Regions from separate parts of the Homo sapiens genome. Here region 1 is linked to region 2. The links come from fine-mapping of genetic effects on gene expression. A gene starts in region 2. The other region holds a variant in brackets. All regions are shown on one strand. Distances are from middle to middle. Region 1 has its middle 10 kb from the start of MIR219A2HG. Region 2 holds the start of URM1 (ubiquitin related modifier 1).

Region 1 (10,160 bases), 33 kb after region 2:
GGGAGGGTGAGACAGGAGAATGGCGTGAACCCGGGAGACGGAGCTTGCAGTGAGCCGAGGTCACGCCACTGCACTCCAGCCTGGGCAACAGAGCAAGACTCCGTCTCAAAAAAAAAAAAATTAAAAAAGAAGACGGCAGAGTTGTCCACACTGCCAGTTAAGCAAGCCCTTCCTTCCCACCAGGACTGGCTTTTTTTTTTTTTTTTTTTGAGACGGAGTCTCGGTCTGTCATCCAGGCTGGAGTGCAGTGGCGTGATATCGGCTCACTGCAACCTCCACTTCCCGGGTTCAAGCAATTCTCCTGCATCAGCCTCCCAAGTAGCTGGGACTACAGGCACGTGCCACCACACTCAGCTAAATTTTGTATTTTTAGTAGAGGTGGGTTGAGACCAGGATGGTCTCAATCTCTTGACCTCATGATCCACCCGCCTCAGCCTCCCAAAGTGCTGGGATTACAGGCGTGAGCCACCGCACCCGGCTTTTTTTTTTTTTTTTTGAAGTGGAGTCTCACTCTGTCACGCAGTCTGGAGTGCAGTGGCACAATCTCCATTCACTGCAACCCCTGCCTCCCAGATTCAAGCAATTCTCATGCCTCAGCCTCTCAAGTAGCTGGGACTATAGGTGTGTGCCACCATGCCCAGCTAATTTTTGTATTTTTAGTAGAGATGGGGTTTCACTGTGTTGGCCTCAAACTCCTGACCTCAAGTGATCCGCCCACCTCAGCCTCCCAAAGTGCTGGGATTACAGGCATGAGCCATCGCACCTGGCCTGGCCTGGCCTGGCATTTTACCAAGGATTTTTTTTTTTTTTTTTTTTTTTTTGGTTATGGAGTCCTGCTCTGTCACCCAGGCTGAAGTGCAGTGGCGCAATCTCGGCTCAGTGCAACCTCCACCTCCCAGGTTCAAGCAATTCTCCCTGCCTCAGCCTCCCACTTAGCTGGGACTACAGGTGCCCACCACCACGCCTGGCTAATTTTTGTATTTTTAGTAGAGTCAGGGTTTTGCCATGCTGGCCAGGCTGGTCTCGAACTCCTGACCTCAGGTGATCCTTCTCGGCCTCCCAAAGTACTGAGATTACAGGCGTGAGCCACCGCACCAGGCCTTTACCAAGGATTTGACCAAACATTGTGCTCAGCACAAAGGACATGCTCAGTAAACATCTGTTGAATGAATGATGAATGAATGAATGAATTGATGAATGCTTTATTGAAGTAATAATTAAATGAATGGTAGATGGAGACGGATGCATGAAAAAGCAGACTTTGGGACAATGGAGTGAAAGATGAAATTAATAAGGAATTGACAGTGGGTGCACGGATGTTTGCAGCCAATCAGCTGAGGTTCTAGGTGTGGCACTTGAGATATTGCTGTGGGTGAGGCTCATTGAAGGGGGCTGGGAGGGGCTTCTGTCATGCAGCAGCCTCAGTTCTGCACTTTAAGGCAAGTCCAGGACCCAGAGCATGCAGACAGATGCCCAGGGAACAGCTGTGGCGACAGGCTCCACCTCTGTGCCAGATCTTTCCATCCCTAGATTCCTGTCCCCAAGTGTTTCTGTCAATCCGGGTTTCACTGTGATTTGGCCTGGCAGCCTGGGATAGAGGAAAGAACCCTATTGCTATTCAGTGTGCCTCCATAGGCCAGGCCCTTGCCCACTCTGGGCTTCAGTAGCCAGAACCATTTATACAAAGAGAATTCTCTAAGACTGGCCGGCACTCTTACATGGTGACTGGCCAGGTGTCCTACCTCTAGAAATGAACTGACAACCTGACTCACTCCAGTCTCAGAAGATGCCAGAGCCAGGCCACCTGTCCCCACTCAGAGGGGATCCTAAGAACCCCTCCACCCTGCCTAGCATTTTTCGGCTTACAGAAGATGTTCCTCTCTATGAAGTGAGTGAAGGCAGGGCAGGGAAGCCTTCCAGGTTAAAACATGCACCTGCCCGGCACGCTTCAGCCCATCGTGCTGTGTTGATGTCTTCCTTGACTGGATCACTCCCTGAAAGTGTCATATTTACCAGCTGTCTTGTTTGTCACCTACTAGAACAGAAGCTGTATGAGGGATCACGTCCTGTTCATTACTAAATCCCCAGCACCTAGAACAACGCCTGCCCCTTGGAAGGTGCTAAGTTTTTTTGTTTTGTTTTGTTTTGTTTTAGATGAAGTTTCACTCTTGTCACCCAGGCTGGAGTGCAATGGCGCGATCTCGGCTCACTGCAGCCTCCGCCTCCCGGGTTCAAGCAGTTATCCTGCCTCAGCCTCCCGAGTAGCTGGGACTACAGTGGCCTGCCACCACACCCGTCTAATTTTTGTATTTTTAGTAGTGACAGGGTTTCACCATGTTGGCCAGGCTGGTCTCAAACTCCTGACCTCAGGTGATCCGCCCACCTCAGCCTCCCAAAGTGCTGGGATTACAGGCGTGAGCCACCGCGCCCGGCTGGAAGGTGCTAAATTTTTGTTTTTCTTTCTTTTTTCCTTTTCTTTTTTTTGAGACGGAGTCTCACTCTGTCACCCAGGCTGGAGTGCAGTGGCGCGATCTCGGCTCACTGCAAGCTCCGCCTCCTGGGTTCACGCCATTCTCCTGCCTCAGCCTCCCGAGTAGCCGGGACAACAGGCGCCCACCACCACACGTGGCTAACTTTTTGTACTTTTAATAGAGATGGGGTTTCACCGTGTTAGCCAGGATGATCTCGATCTCCTAACCTCATGATCCACCCGCCTCGGCCTCCCAAAGTGCTGGGATTACAGGCGTGAGCCACCACGCCCGGCCGGAAGGTGCTGTTTTATTAAATACCTGGGTCAAGGAATAAATAGATACATGGACCATTGTAATCTGGACCATTGTAATCTAGTTAGCAACAACTACCATATATTAAGCACTGAGCACTGGGCTAAGCGCTTGACATGCATCACTACAGCCCTTCAGAGAAATTCTATCACTCTCCGCATTTTACCCACTAGGAACCTGAGGCCAAGAGAGAGCAAGCAACTTCCCCCAGGTACAGAGCTCCTGAATGACAGAGATAGGTTTTATTGATTTCAATTAATCTTTTTTTTTTTTTTTTTGAGACAGAATTTCGCTCTTGTTGCCCAGGCTAGAGTGCAGTGGTGTGATCTCGGCTCACTGCAACCTCTGCCTCCTGGGTGCCTCATCCTCCCAAGTAGCTGGGATTACAGGCATGTGCCACCACGCCTAGCTAATTTTGTATTTTTAGTAGAGACAGGGTTTCACTGTGTTGGTCAGGCTAGTCTTGAACTCCTGACCTCAGGTGATCCACCCGCCTCAGCCTTTCAAAGTGCTGGGATTACAGGCATGAGCCACCGCACCCAGTGTCAATTAATTATTATTATTTTTAATAGAGATGGGGTCCCAGGCCGGGCACGGTGGCTTGTGCCTGTAATCCCATCACTTTGGGAGGCCGAGGCAGGTGGATTGCTTGAGCTCAGGAGTTCAAGACCAGTGTGGCCAACATGGTGAAACCCCGTTTCTACCAAAAAATAAAAAAAATAACTGGGTGTGTTGGTGGGCACCCGTAATCCCAGCTACTCTGGAGGCTGAGGTGGGAGAATTGCTTGAACCCAGGAAGTGGAGGTTGCAATGAG[T/C]GTAGATCTCGTCACTGCATTGCAGCCTGGGCATCAGAGTGAGACTCTGTCTAAAAAGAAAGAAAGAGAGATCCTTCCTGGCTAACACGATGAAACCCTGTCTCTACTAAAAATACAAAAAAATTAGCCAGGCGTGGTGGAGGGCGCCTGTAGTCCCAGCTACTCTGGAGGCTGAGGCAGAAGAATGGCATGAACCTGGGAGGCGGAGCTTGTAGTGAGCCGAGATCGCACCACTGGACTCTAGCCTGGGCGACAGAGCGAGACTCCGTCTCAAAAAAAATAATAAAAAAGAGAGATGAGGTCTTGCTATGTTGCCTAGACTGGTCCTAAACTCCTAGGCTCAAGTGATCTTCCCACCTCTGCTTCCCAAAGTGTTGGTATTATAGTTGTGAGCCACCACGCCCTGCCAAGAGCTAGAGTTTTGGTTTTTTTTTTTTTTTTTTTTGAGATGGAGTTTCGCTCTTGTTGCCCAGGCTGGAGTGCAATGGCATGATCTTGGCTCACTGCAACCTCCACCTCCCAGGTTCAAGCTATTCTCCTGCCTCAACCTCCCAAGTAGCTGGGATTACAGCCATGTGCCATCACGCCCAACTAATTTTGTATTTTTAGTAGAGACGAGGTTTCTCCATGTTGGTCAGACTGGTCTTGAACTCCTGATCTCAGGTGATCTGCCCACCTCAGCCTCCCAAAGTGCTGGGATTACAGGCATGAGCCACCACACCCGGCCCTAGGTTTGTTTTAGACCTAAGTCTGCGTATCTGCAAAGACCACATTCTTCAATACTTCACCACCTCACTCCTCTTACTCTATTGCCCCAGTACCCAGTGAAGTAGGAACCATTGGAAGTTAAGGAGTTGGGACTCACGAGAGTTCAAGACCATCCTGGACAACATAGTGGGAACCCATCTCTGCAAAAAAAAAAAATTAGCTGGGCATGGTGATGGGTGCCTGTAGTCCCAGCTGCTTGGGAGGCTGAGGCAGAAGGATCACTTGAGTCTAGGAGGTTGAGGCTGCAGTGAGCCATGAGTGTGCCACTGCACTCCAGCCTGGGTGACAGAGAGAAACCATGTCTAAAAAATAATAATAATTGGGACTTAGACATACTGTATAATTCCATTTACATGAAATATCCAGAATAGGCAAATCTATTGAGACAGAAAGCAGATTAGTGGTTGCCTAGGGCTGGGGAGAAGGGCAGTTGGGGAGAAATGGGGAATGATGGCTAATGAGTATGGGCTTTCTTTCTTTCTTTCTTTTTTTGAGATGGAGTCTCACTCTGTCATGCAGGCTGGAGTGCAGTGGTGCGATCTCAGCTCACTGCAACCTCCGTCTCCTGGGTTCAAGCAATTCTCCTTGCCTCAACCTCCCGAGTAGCTGGGATTACAAGTGCCCACCACCACGCCCTGCTAATTTTTGTATTTTTCTAGTAGAGATGTAGTTTCACCATGTTGCCCAGGCTGATCTTGAACTCTTGACCTCAGGTGATCAGCCCACCTTGACCTCCCAAAGTGCTGGGATTACAGGTGTGAGCCACCACGCCCAGCCTGAGTATGGGCTTTCTTTTCAAAATAATGAAAATATAAAATGGCTTGTTGTGATGGTTGCACAATTCTTGAATATACTAAAAGCTGTTGAATGATACACTTTAAGTAGGCAAATTGCATGGCATGTGAATTACATCTCAACAATGCTGTTATGAAAAAAAAAGAGGCCGGGCACAGTGGCTCACACCTGTAATCCTAGCACTGGCCGAAGCGGCTCACACCTGTAATCCCAGCACTGGCCGAAGCGGGTGGATCATGAGGTCAGGAGATCGACACCATCCTGGCTAACACGGTGAAATCCCATCTCTACTAAAAATACAAACAATTAGCTGGGCATGGTGGTGGGCACCTGTAGTCCCAGCTACTCCGGAGGCTGAGGCAGGAGAATGGCGTGAACCCGGGAGGCGGAGGTTGCAATGAGCCAAGATCCCGCCACTCTGCCACTGCACTCCAGCCTGGGTGACAGAGCAAGACTCCATCTCAAAAAAAAAAAAAAAAAGATAAAAAGAGAGGGATGGGGCTCAGGAATCCCACCTCTGCCACTTACCTGCTTGGCACATGACTTCATACCTCCCAACCTCAGCTTCCTTAACCAATAAAATAGGAAAAATAAACATCTCCTGGGTCTTTTGTGAGGATTAAATGAGATAATACATATTATTATTCCCATTTTATCAAGGAGGAAACAGGCCCAGAGAAGGGAAGTGACTTGGGTGCAGATGGCACAGCTGGTGGGTGGCAGGTGAGAGACTCAGGCCTGGGTCTCATGGCACCACCCCATCTTTTAGCATTGTGTAGAGTGGACCAGTGTCTGCACACTCCACCCACCCCTTCACCAACACTCTCTTCCATCTCCCTCCTTCTCTTGGGCTCTGGGGCCCTGTCTCCCCACTGCTCACGCTCAGAACAAGTGGAGGTGGCTGAGTCCCCCCAGAGCACAGGACACCCTCTCCCCCAGCCCCCACCCTGCTCCCCTCCTGGGGCCATGATGCTGTCTTGCTTTTGCTTGTAATAAAGAAAATATCTCAGCTACCCTTCCATGGTTGCTTGGCAACCCCGAGGGGGGTTGGGTGGGGGGGACCAAGGGGAGGAGGGATGGGGGAGGATTCTGGAGCCAATCTGGAGACAAAGAGTAGGATTTGGGTGACATGGAGCCTGTTCTTAGTGCTAACCTGGCCTGGCTGGGGCGGCGGGTGGGGGCAGCGGGCTTCCTCCCACCCCAGTGTCTCACACCAATAAATATGGATTAGGGAAATGGGCTGAGTTTTTCCCACGGGCCTGAAAGGCCGCATCTGACCTTTCTACCCCCTTTATGTACCAATGTGACAGTCAGAGACAGCAAAGAGCAGGACCCCCTGAGATGCCTCCCCCATGGCCTTCTGACTTGGGGAAACTTTTCACCCTCCTCCTTCCCCTGGCCACAGACCAGGTCACAGCTCTGCCTGGGCCCTTGTTCCGGGGATGAGAAGGAGGCTGGTTTCCAGGTGGGCGCCAGGAGCTCCCATCCTCAGTGTCCACTCCGGGCCCTGCTGGCCGTGACCGGTGCAGAGCCAGGCTGTGAGGCCCTGGACTGGTTAGTGACGGCCCTGCCTGCCTCCTAGACAGTCCTCTGCTCTGTGGCTCCCCCATCCTGTCCCTGCCCCATCTCTGCCTGGGCCGCCTCCATCAGGAGCCCTATCGTCCGTGTCCCTTTGCGTCCCTCTCCTCAGATACTTCCCACCACCCTCTTCTCGACTTGGTTTCCCTCTTTCTCTCCTCCTGCCAGCCCCCCACGCCCCAGTCGTCCATGAAACTAGGAAGCCCTTGTGGCTGAGGTATCTCCTGCAGTGAAGAGGGCAGGAAGGGTTGTGGAGGGGGAGGTGGGGGCCGTGATCTCACTCCCTGGTGCCCTGACTTTCTGGTCGTTGGCCGGGGGTGGGGATCGGCTGCTCTGAATGGAGTCAGTGTAGAGGCAGGAAAAGCAAACACCTCCGTGTGGGCCCTGCTGGCAGTGGATGGGAGCGGTCGGGGGGCAGGGGCCTGGGCTCCTCTCAGCCTCCTTGATCAGACCTCTCCCCACTCCTGAGGCTCCCTGTCTTCCTGGACCTTTGGCCTACAGTGTCCAGAAGGAGAGTGGGGTGAAGGTTTAGGGGGAAGCCCTCTGGGAGACGTCTTTGCTCAAATCTTTCCCTGCTCCTCTGCCCAACCCCCAGCCAGTGCCCTTCCTGCCCAGCAGATGCCAGGAAAATCTGTGCCCGGGAAGGGCGGTCTGGCACCTGAGGGCCCCGCCTGACCAGTCCTTCTCAGCAGCAGGAGCTGGGTGGGAGTCACCTTATGCCAGAGACGCCCCAGCAGTGCCATCCACCTCCTGGGCTGAGGAGTACCCCCAAGAGGCTCTGCCCGGGTGAGTGCTCCTCTGGCCCCACAGCCAGGCAGTGAGGGAGGGAGAGGTTGTCCATGTCGGGGCTCCCCAAGACCCCCACAATCTCCGTGAGTCCTCATGGTTCTGTGGCCTTTTCTGTTGTGACTGTCTCACCCTCTGTCTGGGACTCGTGTGTCACTGATGGTTTGGTGAGGGGAGCTGAAGGGATGGTTAGAGAAGCTGGAGGAGAGGGCTGGGAATGTGAGGAGGTAGGAGGGGCTGGAGTCTAGGGTATAGGACTCCTGGATTCCCAGCCAGGTTTTTGTGTTTTATTTTTATTTGTATGATTTTTAAATTTCTGTTTTAAAAGATGAGGTCTCTCTTGCATGGAATATATCTTTATATTAAAAAAAAAAAAAAAAAGATAAGGTCTCACTATGTTGCCCAGGCTGGTCTTGAACTCCTGGGCTCAAGCAATCCTCCCACCTCAGCCTCCCTAAATGCTGTGATTACAGGCCTGAGCTACCGCACCCAGCCTAGCCAACTTTCTGATTAGATTTGTGAAATCACAGAGGCTGCTGTAATGGTTTCCTTTTAACACTTTGGATTCTAAAAGACCTTTGGAATGAGCTCAGAGAGAGTTAGCAGTTCATCCCGGGTGACACAGCAAACTGCTGGTACTCAAACCCACCAGGCCCCCTCATCACACCGCAGGCTGTTTGTGTTATGGAAGCCATCTTTGACCACCTCTCTCTTTCCCTCTCCACATGCAGTTTCCCCCTGAATTTAAGAGGCTGAGGGGTGGAGGGAGCCGACTCTGCCTAGCACCTCCAGGCCTTTCCTTTCTGTTGTCTCTCCAGGCACCATGCCCAGGGCCCAGCCTAGTAGCAGGAGCAGCCCCTGCCTGGGCCTCAGAGCGCCACAATCTCCTCTGACTATCCCTGGGAAGCCGTGGTTGGCTTTTGCCTTACATCCCCCAGAGAATGGCGTCTTTGTTCTTGGTGTCTAACCATAGTCCCTCATGTTGTCTTTAAAGCCCAACCACTTCCCAAAAAGCAAGGTCAACAGCTGACTGCATACCACAGCACCCCAGTGGTTCCTGCTTTGAGGTGGGACCTGGCTGGGGGGACCCTGCCGAGTAGAAACAGGCATTCCTCACTGGGTCAGGCTCTGTTCTGAGGTCGTCCACGTACCTTGCTGAATGGTGGTCACCACATTCCTGCAGTGTGGAGTCAGTTTTACAGATTGGAAAACTGAGACACGGAGCATTGAAGTGACTCATCTGTGGACACACTGCGAGAAAAAGAGCTGGGATTCAAGCCCATAGCTTGGCTGCAGAGCCCAATCCCTTAAACGTTCTTCCATAGTGCCTCTGATTCCTAGGAGGCCTCCGCTGGAGGTCATTGCATTCAATCCCCTGCATCTGGATGTCTACCCAGGCCCACCTCTGTTCACAGATAAAAATCAATCAAGCTTTTTTTTAAATAAACTTTATTTTTATTTTTTGAGACACAGTCTCACCCTGTCGCCCAGGCTGGAGTGAATGGCCACCATGCTTGGCTGATTTTTGTATTTTTTGTAGAGATGGAGTTTTGCCATGTTGCCCAGGCTGGTCTTGAGCTCCTGGGCTTAAGTGATCCACCTGCCTCAGCCTCCCAAAGTGCTGGGATTACAGGCGGGAGCCTCCCAAAGTGCTTGTCCAACCTCGTTTTTAAAGGCAACTGCAGCTGGGCACAGTGGTTCACGCCTGTAATCCCAGCACTTTGGGAGGCCAAGGAGGGCTGATCACAAGGTCAGGAGTTGAGAGACCAGCCTGGCCAATATGGTGAAACTCCATCTCTACTAAAAATACAAAAATTAGCCAGGCGTAGTGGCGGGTGCCTGTAGTCCCAGCTACTCGGGAGGCTGAGGCAGGAGAATCGCTTGAACCCGGGAGGTGGAGGTTGCAGTGAGCCAAGTTCGCGCCACTGCACTCCAGCCTGGGTGACAGAGCGAGATTCTGTCTCAAAAAATAAATAAATAAATAAATAAATAAATAAATAAATAAAGGCACCTGCTCCAAGGATGGAATTTCCCCTGGGGATAAGCAGACATTTCTTTATTCATAGCCTTCTGGCAGGGAGGGAAGACCCTCCCAGCCAGAACTCACCATGTCCAGCTGCCTCGTTGTTCCTCTCTCCTTCCCACTGGAGTATAATTTCAGGAAGGAAGCGGCTCCGCCTTGAGTATTGGCTCCACAACCTCCAGGCTGTGTGGCGTTGGACAAATGACTGAACTTCTCTGAGCCTTAGCTTATCAAGTGTAAAGTGGAGCTAATTATACATCTGCTTTGTGAGTCTGAAAAAGTTTACATGATAAAAGGGTATGAAGGTCTGAAAGGGCTTAGTGAGCACAGTGCCTGGCACCTCTGAAGTGCACAGGACCAAGTGGCAAATACTTCTCACTGCATCCTGAGGGGTCGTTCCCAGACCCTGAGATCCCACCCAGCCACAGCCAAGTCACCTTCTGGGTTGTCTTACTTAGCCATGGGATTGTCCCTGTTCCCCTGTCCCCTCCCTAGTCCGGGTTCTGGCCTCAAGAAAGAAGGCCCTAGGGGTAAAGGAGTTGGAGGAGGGGGGCTTGGCAGCACCACCATCACCACTGTCATCATCCTCATTGAAACTCTTCTACCTGCAAG
Region 2 (8,299 bases):
GCAAGCTCCGCCTCCTGGATTCACGCCATTCTCCTGCCTCAGCCTCCCGAGTAGCTGGGACTACAGGTGCCCGCCATCACACCCGGCTAATTTTTTTTTGTATTTTTAGTAGAGACGGGGTTTCACCGTGTTAGCCAGGATGGTCTCGATCTCCTGACCTCGTGATCCGCCCGCCTCAGCCTCCCAAAGTGCTGGGATTACAGGCGTGTGCCACCGCACCCGGCCAACTGACAGGTTTTGTTCATCATTGTGTTCCCAGCAGCAACACTGGCCCTGGTGTGTAATAGGTTCTCAGTGAATGTTTGTCAGGTGGATGAAGCTCTTCAAATGCTCCCAAGTGCTCCATTCCAGCTCTGGGAGGCAGTTTCCAGGTCAGGGGACACTGAGGTGGGTTGGAATCAGAGGCTGTAAAGGGCTCTGTATGCCTTCTAGGTAGGCCCTTAGCTTGTTGGCAAAGGGAAGCCATTAAGTGACTTTGAGCAGGGGACTGATATCATTCATTCATTTACTCATTCAGCAAGCTCTTGGCAAACCCCTATAGAGTACAAAGTTCCGCACTACCTGCTATAATCAAAGATGAATCAGGAAAAGTTTCTGCCCAGAAGGAGCTTAGAGTACAGTAGAAGAATCTTAGAATATGTTTGCATAGAAGACCTTAGAAGATCATTTGGTCCCAAACCTCTTCACAGAATAGGGAAACTGAGTTCCACAGAGGGGTGGGTCACATGGCACGGTGAGGATGAGGCCTTTCTGTGTACCACGTGAGTCCTCCACTTTCCAAGGACCAGGGCAGTGTCTCATTTGTCCTTGTTTTATAGGAACAGGGCCTGGCACATTGAAGGGGCTCAAAGCTGTCCGTGGAGTTGATCTGTACAATGAAGCCAAGGCCAGAGGAGGTGGGAGGCAGGCAGGCCAGAGAGGAAGCAGGTGCAGGTGAGGTGATGAGCTGGAGGACTGGGGGGGCATGCCAGATTAGAAGGGAGACTCGGCTGGGCGCAGTGGCTCACGCCTGTAATCCCAGCACTTTGGGAGGCTGAGGCAGGCAGATCACGAGGTCAGGAGATTGAGACCATCCTGGCTAACATGGTGAAACCCCATCTCTACTAAAAACACAAAAAATTAGCCAGGCCTGGTGGCGGGCGCCTGTAATCCCAGCTACTTGGGAGGCTGAGGCAGGAGAATGGCGTGAACCCGGGAGACAGCTTGCAGTGAGCTGATATCGCACCACTGCCCTCCAGCCTGGGCGACAGAGTGAGACTCCGTCTCAAAAAAAAAAAAAAAGAAGGGAGACTCATCCAAATTTGGTGACTGTTTGGATATGAGAGAGGGAAAATTAGGGTAATTTGGGTGTTTACTTGGGTGTTTTGGTGGGTGGTAGTGGTATTCCTGAGATGGGGAACACAGAACCTGTTTTGTTTTGTTTGTTTTGAGACGGAGTCTAGCTCTCTTGTTGCGCCACTGCACTCCAGCCTCCCGGGTTCAAGCAGTTCTCCTGCTTCAGCCTCCCAAGTAGCTGGGATTACAGGTGTGCACCACCATGCCCAGCTAATTTTTCTATTTTTAGTAGAGATGGGTTTCACCATGTTGGCCAGGCTGGTCTCGAACTCCTGATCTCAAGTGATCCACCTGCCTCAGCCTCCCAAAGTGCTGGGATTACAGGTGTGAGCCACTGCGCCCGGCTGAGAGAACCTGTTTTAGGAAAGAGTCACTGTGCCAAGAACTTACTCACTCCTCACTACAACCTTATGGGGTTGGGATGTTATTATCCCCATTTTACAGATGAGGAAACTGAGGCGCAAAGCTGTTAAGGGACTTGCCCAAAGACACAGCTAGAAAGTAGTAGGACCTAGATATATTAATTTTTAATTTTAATTTTTATTTCAGACAGTCTCACTGTCACCCAGGGCTGGAGTGCAGTAGTGTAACCTCCGCCTCCCAGCTTGTGCCTCAGCCTCCTGAGTAGCTGGGACTACAGGTGTGTGCCACCATGCCTGGCTTTTGGTAGAGATGGGGTTTCATCATGTTGCCCAGGCTGGTTCTGAACTCCTGGCCTCAAGCAATCCATCCACCTTGGCCTCCCAAAATGCTGGGATTACAGGCGTGAGCCACTGTGCCTGGCCAGGGCCTGCATATAAAGCTGGTAGTTGTACTCCTAGATCTTTACAAAAAAAATTTTTTTTAAATTAAAAATTCTTTGGCCAAGCCAGGTGCAGTGGCTCACACCTGTAATCTCAGCACTTTGGGAGGCCAAGGCGGGCAGATCACCAGGTCAGGAGTTCGAGACCAGCCTGGCCAATATGGTGAAACCCCATCTCTACTAAAAGTACAAAAATTAGCCAGGATGATGGCGCAAGCCTGTAGTCCCAGATACTCGGGAAGCTGAGGCAGAAGACTCTCTTGAACCTGGCAGGCAGAGATTGCAGTGAGCCGAGGTCATGCCACTGCACTCCAGCCTGGGTGACAGAGCAAGAATCTGTCTCAAAAACAAAACAATTTTTTTTTGGCCCAGTGTGGTGCCTCACACCTGTAATCCCAGCACTTTGGGAGGCCAAGACAGGCAGACTGCTTGAGCCCAGGAGTTTGAGAGTAGCCTGGGCAACATGGTGAAAACATGTCTCTACAAAAAAATTTTAAAAATTAGCCGGGCATGGTGGACTAGAAGGAAGGAAGGACTTTATCAGTGCCTGTGGTCTCAGCTACTCTAGAGGCTGAGGCAGGAGGTTCCCTTGAGTCCAGCAGCTCAAGATTACAGTGAGCTGTGATCATGCCATTGCACTCCGGAGTCTCACTCTGTCATGCAGGCTGAATGCAATAGCATGATCACGGCTCACTGCAGCCTTGACCTCCAGGCTCAGGTGATCCTCCCCTCACAGCCTCCTGAGTAGCTGGGACAGGCACACTCCACCATGCCTGGCTGATTTTTGAAGAAACATTTACAGACATAGGGACTTGCTGTGTTGCCCAGGCTGGTCTCAAACTCCCAGCCAGAAGCAGTCCTCTTGCCTTGGCCTCCCAAAGCATTGGGATTACAGGTGTGAGTCGCCACACCCATTCCACCTGAACTCCTAGATCTTAACTATTACATCATTCTGCCCTTAACCACTAGGCTACACCATCATCCTCTACCAATGCTGAGTTCAGTTTTGGAAGTGTTGGTGTTTAGATACCCATAGGCCGTCTACTTCATTCCATTTCTTTTTTTTAGCGTCTCACTCTGTCGCCCAGGCTGGAGTCCAGTGGCACGATCTCGGCTCACTGCAACCTCTGCTGCTTCCTGGGTTCAAGGGATTCTCCTGCCTCTGCCTCCAGAGTAGTTGGGATTACAGGAGACTGCCACCATGCCTGGCTAATTTTTGTATTTTTAGTAGAGACAGGGTTTCACCATGTTGGCTAGACTGGTCTTGAACTCCTGACCTCGTGATCCGCCCATCGTGGCCTCTCGAAGTGCTAGGATTACAGGCATAAGCCACTGTGCCTGGCCAACTTCATTCCATTTCTGCCCTGGGCTTTTTTTTTTTTTTGAGACAGAGTCTTGCTCTGTCACCAGGCTGGAGTGCAGTGGCTCGATGTCAGCTCACTGCAACCTCCACCTCCCGGGTTCCAGCGATTCTTCTGCCTCAGCCTCCCGAGTAGCTGGGACTACAGGCGCACGCCACCACATCCAGCTAATTTTTGTATTTTTTTAGTAAAGACAGGGTTTTGCCATGTTGGCCAGGATGGTCTTGATCTCTTGACCTCGTGATCCGCCTGCCTCGGCCTCCCAAATTGCTGGGATGACAGGCGTGAGCCGCCGCGCCCGGCCTGCCCTGAGCCGCCGCGCCCGGCCTGCCCTGAGCTTTTGCAACAGGCTCCAGTGGTCTCCGTGTCTCTTTCCTTATTCCCCTCAAATCATTCTCCATATTGCAGCCAGAAATTATATTTTAAAACACAATTCTAAAATGTCACTGTCTCCCAAAACCCTTCAGTAGTCTCCCACTGCTCCTAGAGACTGAAATGTTTACCTGCTTACAAGGCAGGGGTTGGCCCCTGAGCACCTTTGCAGCTCCCTCTCTAGATGGATGAAAGTCAGGCTCCCTAACTTCCACCTTCCTCTCCATGTTCCAGCATGTTCTCACCCAGAGCCTCTGGGCCTTTTGTCCTCCTCACTGGAATGCTCCTAGAGGTTTCTCTCCCCTCACAGCCACCTAGTTTACTCAGGTTTTAGAGCCCAGCAAGTCCAGTCTACTCAGTTTTCTTTTTGAAGTTCCTATAACTTCAGTTCCTTTATTTAAGTTTGAGGTTGTACATGTCTTAGTATGCTTATTTGATTACAGTTAGTCTCCCCGCTAGACTGTGAGTGCCCTAAAGGCAGGAACCTTGCCCATCCCCTTTACCACTAGCACCGATCAAAATGCCTGGCACAGGGAGGCGCAATGAACAGCTGTTGAACGAGTGACTTCCAAATCGACAGCAAAGGGGGCGGCTGGATAGCGAGTCGCCCGCTCAGGAGAGATTCTGGGTCGGAAATAAAGATCTGGGAGTCATTTATAATTCCAACCAGACGAGTAGATGGGCTGGCCCAAGCGGTGTGTAGACTGAAGAGATTCTAACTCATGCAAGATAAGCAGCTACGTGGCTCACGGTCACGTCGCAAAAAACCTGGGGGCTCTCCTCCGCCTGCTTGTGGTCCCGTACAAGGCGCTTCCCACCCTGGGTCTCTGAGCCCAGTCGGTGAAAGACGGAAGGAGACCGATTCACAGCCCCAACAGCGCCGGTGATAGTCCCTCTGCCACCCCTTTCCCTCCGCTGCCCTCCCCTCCCCTCCCCTCCCCTCGATGACTTCCTCCAACAGCTGACGAAGCTGGATCCCTGGGCACCGCCTCTTCCGTCCGCGGCACCCGGAGACGCCCGGAAATTTGCGGGCGCGCCGGAAGTTGAGGGGAGTTTCCTGCGAGCTCGGCTTCCTCAACATGGCTGCGCCCTTGTCAGTGGAGGTGGAGTTCGGGTGAGTCACAGAGCTGGGGCGCCGTGGGGATGGATTGAAGTCGTCGGGCCCAGAATTCCTTTCCTTCTGCCGTGGGGCCTGACACGGCCGAATCACTGGGTGTCCCAGTGCCCGCTGTGAGCTACGCTACCCGCCTAGGAGAGTCTGAGAGGCCAGTCTCTCTTGGCAGTGAGGCCGTCTGTCCGGAAATAGAGGCGCACATTGGGAGGGAAATGCTCTCTGTGTACCACTCGGTGCCCTGTGCTCCGCCGGAGTCGGAGGTCGTGACTGTTAGCAGGCAGCCTCTCTCTCTTCTTTTCCATTCCTATCTCGGACCAATCCCATCTGTTTGGCATCTGAGCTCCTAGAACCTAGAAGGACCACCCTCCACCCGCTGATTTCATTCTTTGGGCAGCAGTTTCTTTTTACACTGTTATTAAGGTCTTGTTTCTCGTGGGATGTAGTGGCCAGGGCGGGACTTTTTTCTTTTTCTTTCCTAAGACTTGGGGATGGTAAACAGACCTGAGCCTCCTTCAGGACAGTCAGTAAACTTGCTGATTGCCTTCTGCAGAACTGGAGTCAGGTGGAGACACGGGGACAAATAAGAAATCACACTGAAGGGAACTAACAGGGACAGTATAGTATACACAAGATGAAAAATGCAGAGATTGGGACACACACCAGTTACTGAAGAAACACAGAGCAGGGAGGAAGTCTACCCAAGGCACTATTTGTGCTTCCTACAAACAGGTTTGTCATATGGTTTCAAAGCTGAGGGAAACTGCAGAGCTTAGAGAGAAGGCAAAGAAACAGGCCTTGAAAGATGGGTGGTGTACTTTACAGTATCACGTGGAAAAGAGGAAATAGGTAGGGATGTGTGTGTGTGTGTGTGGAATAGGTAGGTGTGTGTGTGTGCCTGTGTGTGTGTAGATAAGCCAAGGTCTATGTGACAGGAAAAGTCTGGGATGGGAATCTAAAACCTCTGCCCAGTGCCTTTCTTCTCATTGGATGCCTCCCATTTCTTTCATGTTTTCCCTTAATTGGGTAGTTCATTCACCAGCCATTTATTGAGTGCCTACCATGTGCCGGGCAGCAAGCCAGACACTGAGGATACAAAGATAAATAGAAGTCTGTCCGTGCCCTACAGCGTTCAGCATTTCTGCCCCTTAGAAGGGGGGTAAGTCTCATGACTAAGTGCATTTTAATTGATATTGTCTGGCTGCTTGGATCCAATTAGAACTGTATTGGTCTGGACTCCTCACTGTTTTGCCTCACTGACCCTTGGCCCAGCTACACTCCCCAAAGCCTGGGATTCTAGGAGGATCCCTGCTTCCTTGACAGGCCTCAGCAGAGCTGGAAAGAGAGAAGCCACAGACTGCTGTGTTAAGATTTATCTGGGCCAGGCATGGAGGCTCATGCCTGTAATCCTAGTACTTTGGGAGGCTTGGGCAGGAGGACTGCTTGAGCCCAAGAATTCGAGACCAGCCTTGGCAACATGGGGAGACTTCATCTCTACCAAAAAAAAAAAAAAGAAGATTTATCTGCAGACAACTTGCCTTTCATCCTCATGAGTCAGACATGGTCTTTGTTTATCAACAATGTCTCTGCTAGGTACTGTGCTAGCTCAGTGGGGAAGTCATGTGAGGAAGATGGGGCCATTGCTCTCCAGAGCTTACAAACCAGCACAATTGCCCTTTTTCTGACCCAATCATCTCTAACTTCAGTCTCCCTTACCTCCAAGAGCAATAATGACCCCTGGCAAGGCAGGACAACATTCCTCCACCCACCCACCCACCCACCCACCTTCTATCACCTCCTGTCACAGCACAGCGTTCCATGAAAATTGCAGCATTCTCAGGAATGCCCAACATGATGCTCAACCCAGGTTCCTTCTCTCTTTGTCCTTGTGTTGATGCACGTTTTTGCCCTGACCTTTCTTTCATTTCCTATGTATCTTAGCAGACATGATTCACCCTTATCCAGAACTGGAGCAAATTTGCAAAGGCTAACACGCCCTTCATTTTCTCTCTTTTGTCCCTTAGTGGCCCCACTCCCACTCCAGTTCTGGAAGGGTCTCCCTCCTGAGCAGATGTAGTCCTCTTGGCCCCACCAGCTCCTCCAGAGACCCTCTGGAAGGCCTCTAACACCTTCCTTCTTGTCAGTGACCACGTCTGCCACCCTTTGTCTTCCCCCTGAATTGTTCTCAGCAGAGCGTTTTCTCAGGTCACGCAGGATTCAAAGTATGTAATATAGTTGTGTTTTGTGTCCCTGTGGTCCATGTTGTAAAGGCCCAGATATGGAGTTCTCTCCGTCCCACCCCTCTTCCTCCTTCCCAAGTTGGGGAGGTATTGGCAAAAGGAGGGAATGTCATTGAGGTCAGAGAAGAACTGGGAGAAATGGGCATTTCCTTTCCTTTAGCAGATATTTGTTGAGTGTCTACCATGTGCCAGGCCCTGTTTTAGGCAGAGCTTGCAGCCCAGCAGGTGGAGAGGAAGTAAATAAACAAAATATATATATACGTGTATATGTATGTGTATATACAGAAGATTAAAAGATGAAGATACATCAGAAAAGGTGAAGGTGGTTTTGAGAATATCTATACCTGTCACTGGTATCTACAAACACATCCACCAAGAATTGGGGGGGTTGAAGGAAGATGGAGATATGTCAGTTGAGTTTGAATAGCAGATCTTATAAGACATAAGAGAGTCTGGCCTTGGTCTCTCCTGGGCTAGAACAGGCCCCTTGTCTGCCTCCCTGAATCACTCTTGAGGCTGGGCATGCACCTTCCCCCACTCCAGATGTGCTGACAGCAGAAATGCCAACCCCTCCCTTGAGGGCCAGTGAATTCAGCAGTGACAGGTCACTCTCTGAGCGAGACTGGTTCTCCCTTCATCCGCTTGTAAAGGGAAAAACAGCCTCGGCCTCTGAGCCTGGCACCACCAGGTTTGGCCAGTCTTGGTTGTTTGCCTAAGTCCCAGTGCCTTCAGTTCCCATCCCTCTTCTCTGACCCCCAACTCCTGAGCCCCTTGCCTGTCACCCTCCCCCACCCCAGCTGCTGCATGTGCCAACCCCCCACCCAGGAGAAAACGAGGCTCTTGGAAGGGAATAAATGGAGGCTCTGTGCAGGCTTGCAGCTGAAATGGCCCTGTGCGCGGCCACAGATGGGCCTCCTCTCCCCCTCCACATTTCTGCATCAACAAAGCGTGACCTTGTTTGGATGACAGTCGCCCCATGTTTTCCCCATGACAATGCTTGCCTTGCCTTTGCCTCCCAGCGGGCTGTCTCAGGACATCTCTGTTCCCTGAAATTGGGAAAGGGTGGTGGGGTGGAAGA

The links. PIP is the estimated chance that this variant, and not a neighbour inherited with it, causes the effect. A credible set is the group of variants that fine-mapping cannot tell apart.
Region 1: its variant is the best candidate, but not a certain one, in a credible set for the expression of URM1 in liver (GTEx, PIP 0.59).

Annotation. Positions count from the first base shown.
Region 1 is chr9:128,398,564-128,408,723 of GRCh38, forward strand. No RefSeq gene overlaps it. Among named protein-coding and RNA genes, the nearest start is that of MIR219A2HG, 10 kb to the left of the region's middle. RefSeq lists an enhancer at 6,194-6,994. The variant T/C (reference allele first, on the strand shown) is at 3,599.
Region 2 is chr9:128,366,432-128,374,730 of GRCh38, forward strand. URM1 (ubiquitin related modifier 1) reads left to right here and starts at 4,943. Exons shown (of 5, transcript NM_030914.4): 1 at 4,943-4,984. The coding sequence starts at 4,950. RefSeq lists enhancers at 3,250-4,114, 4,115-4,978, 5,042-5,141.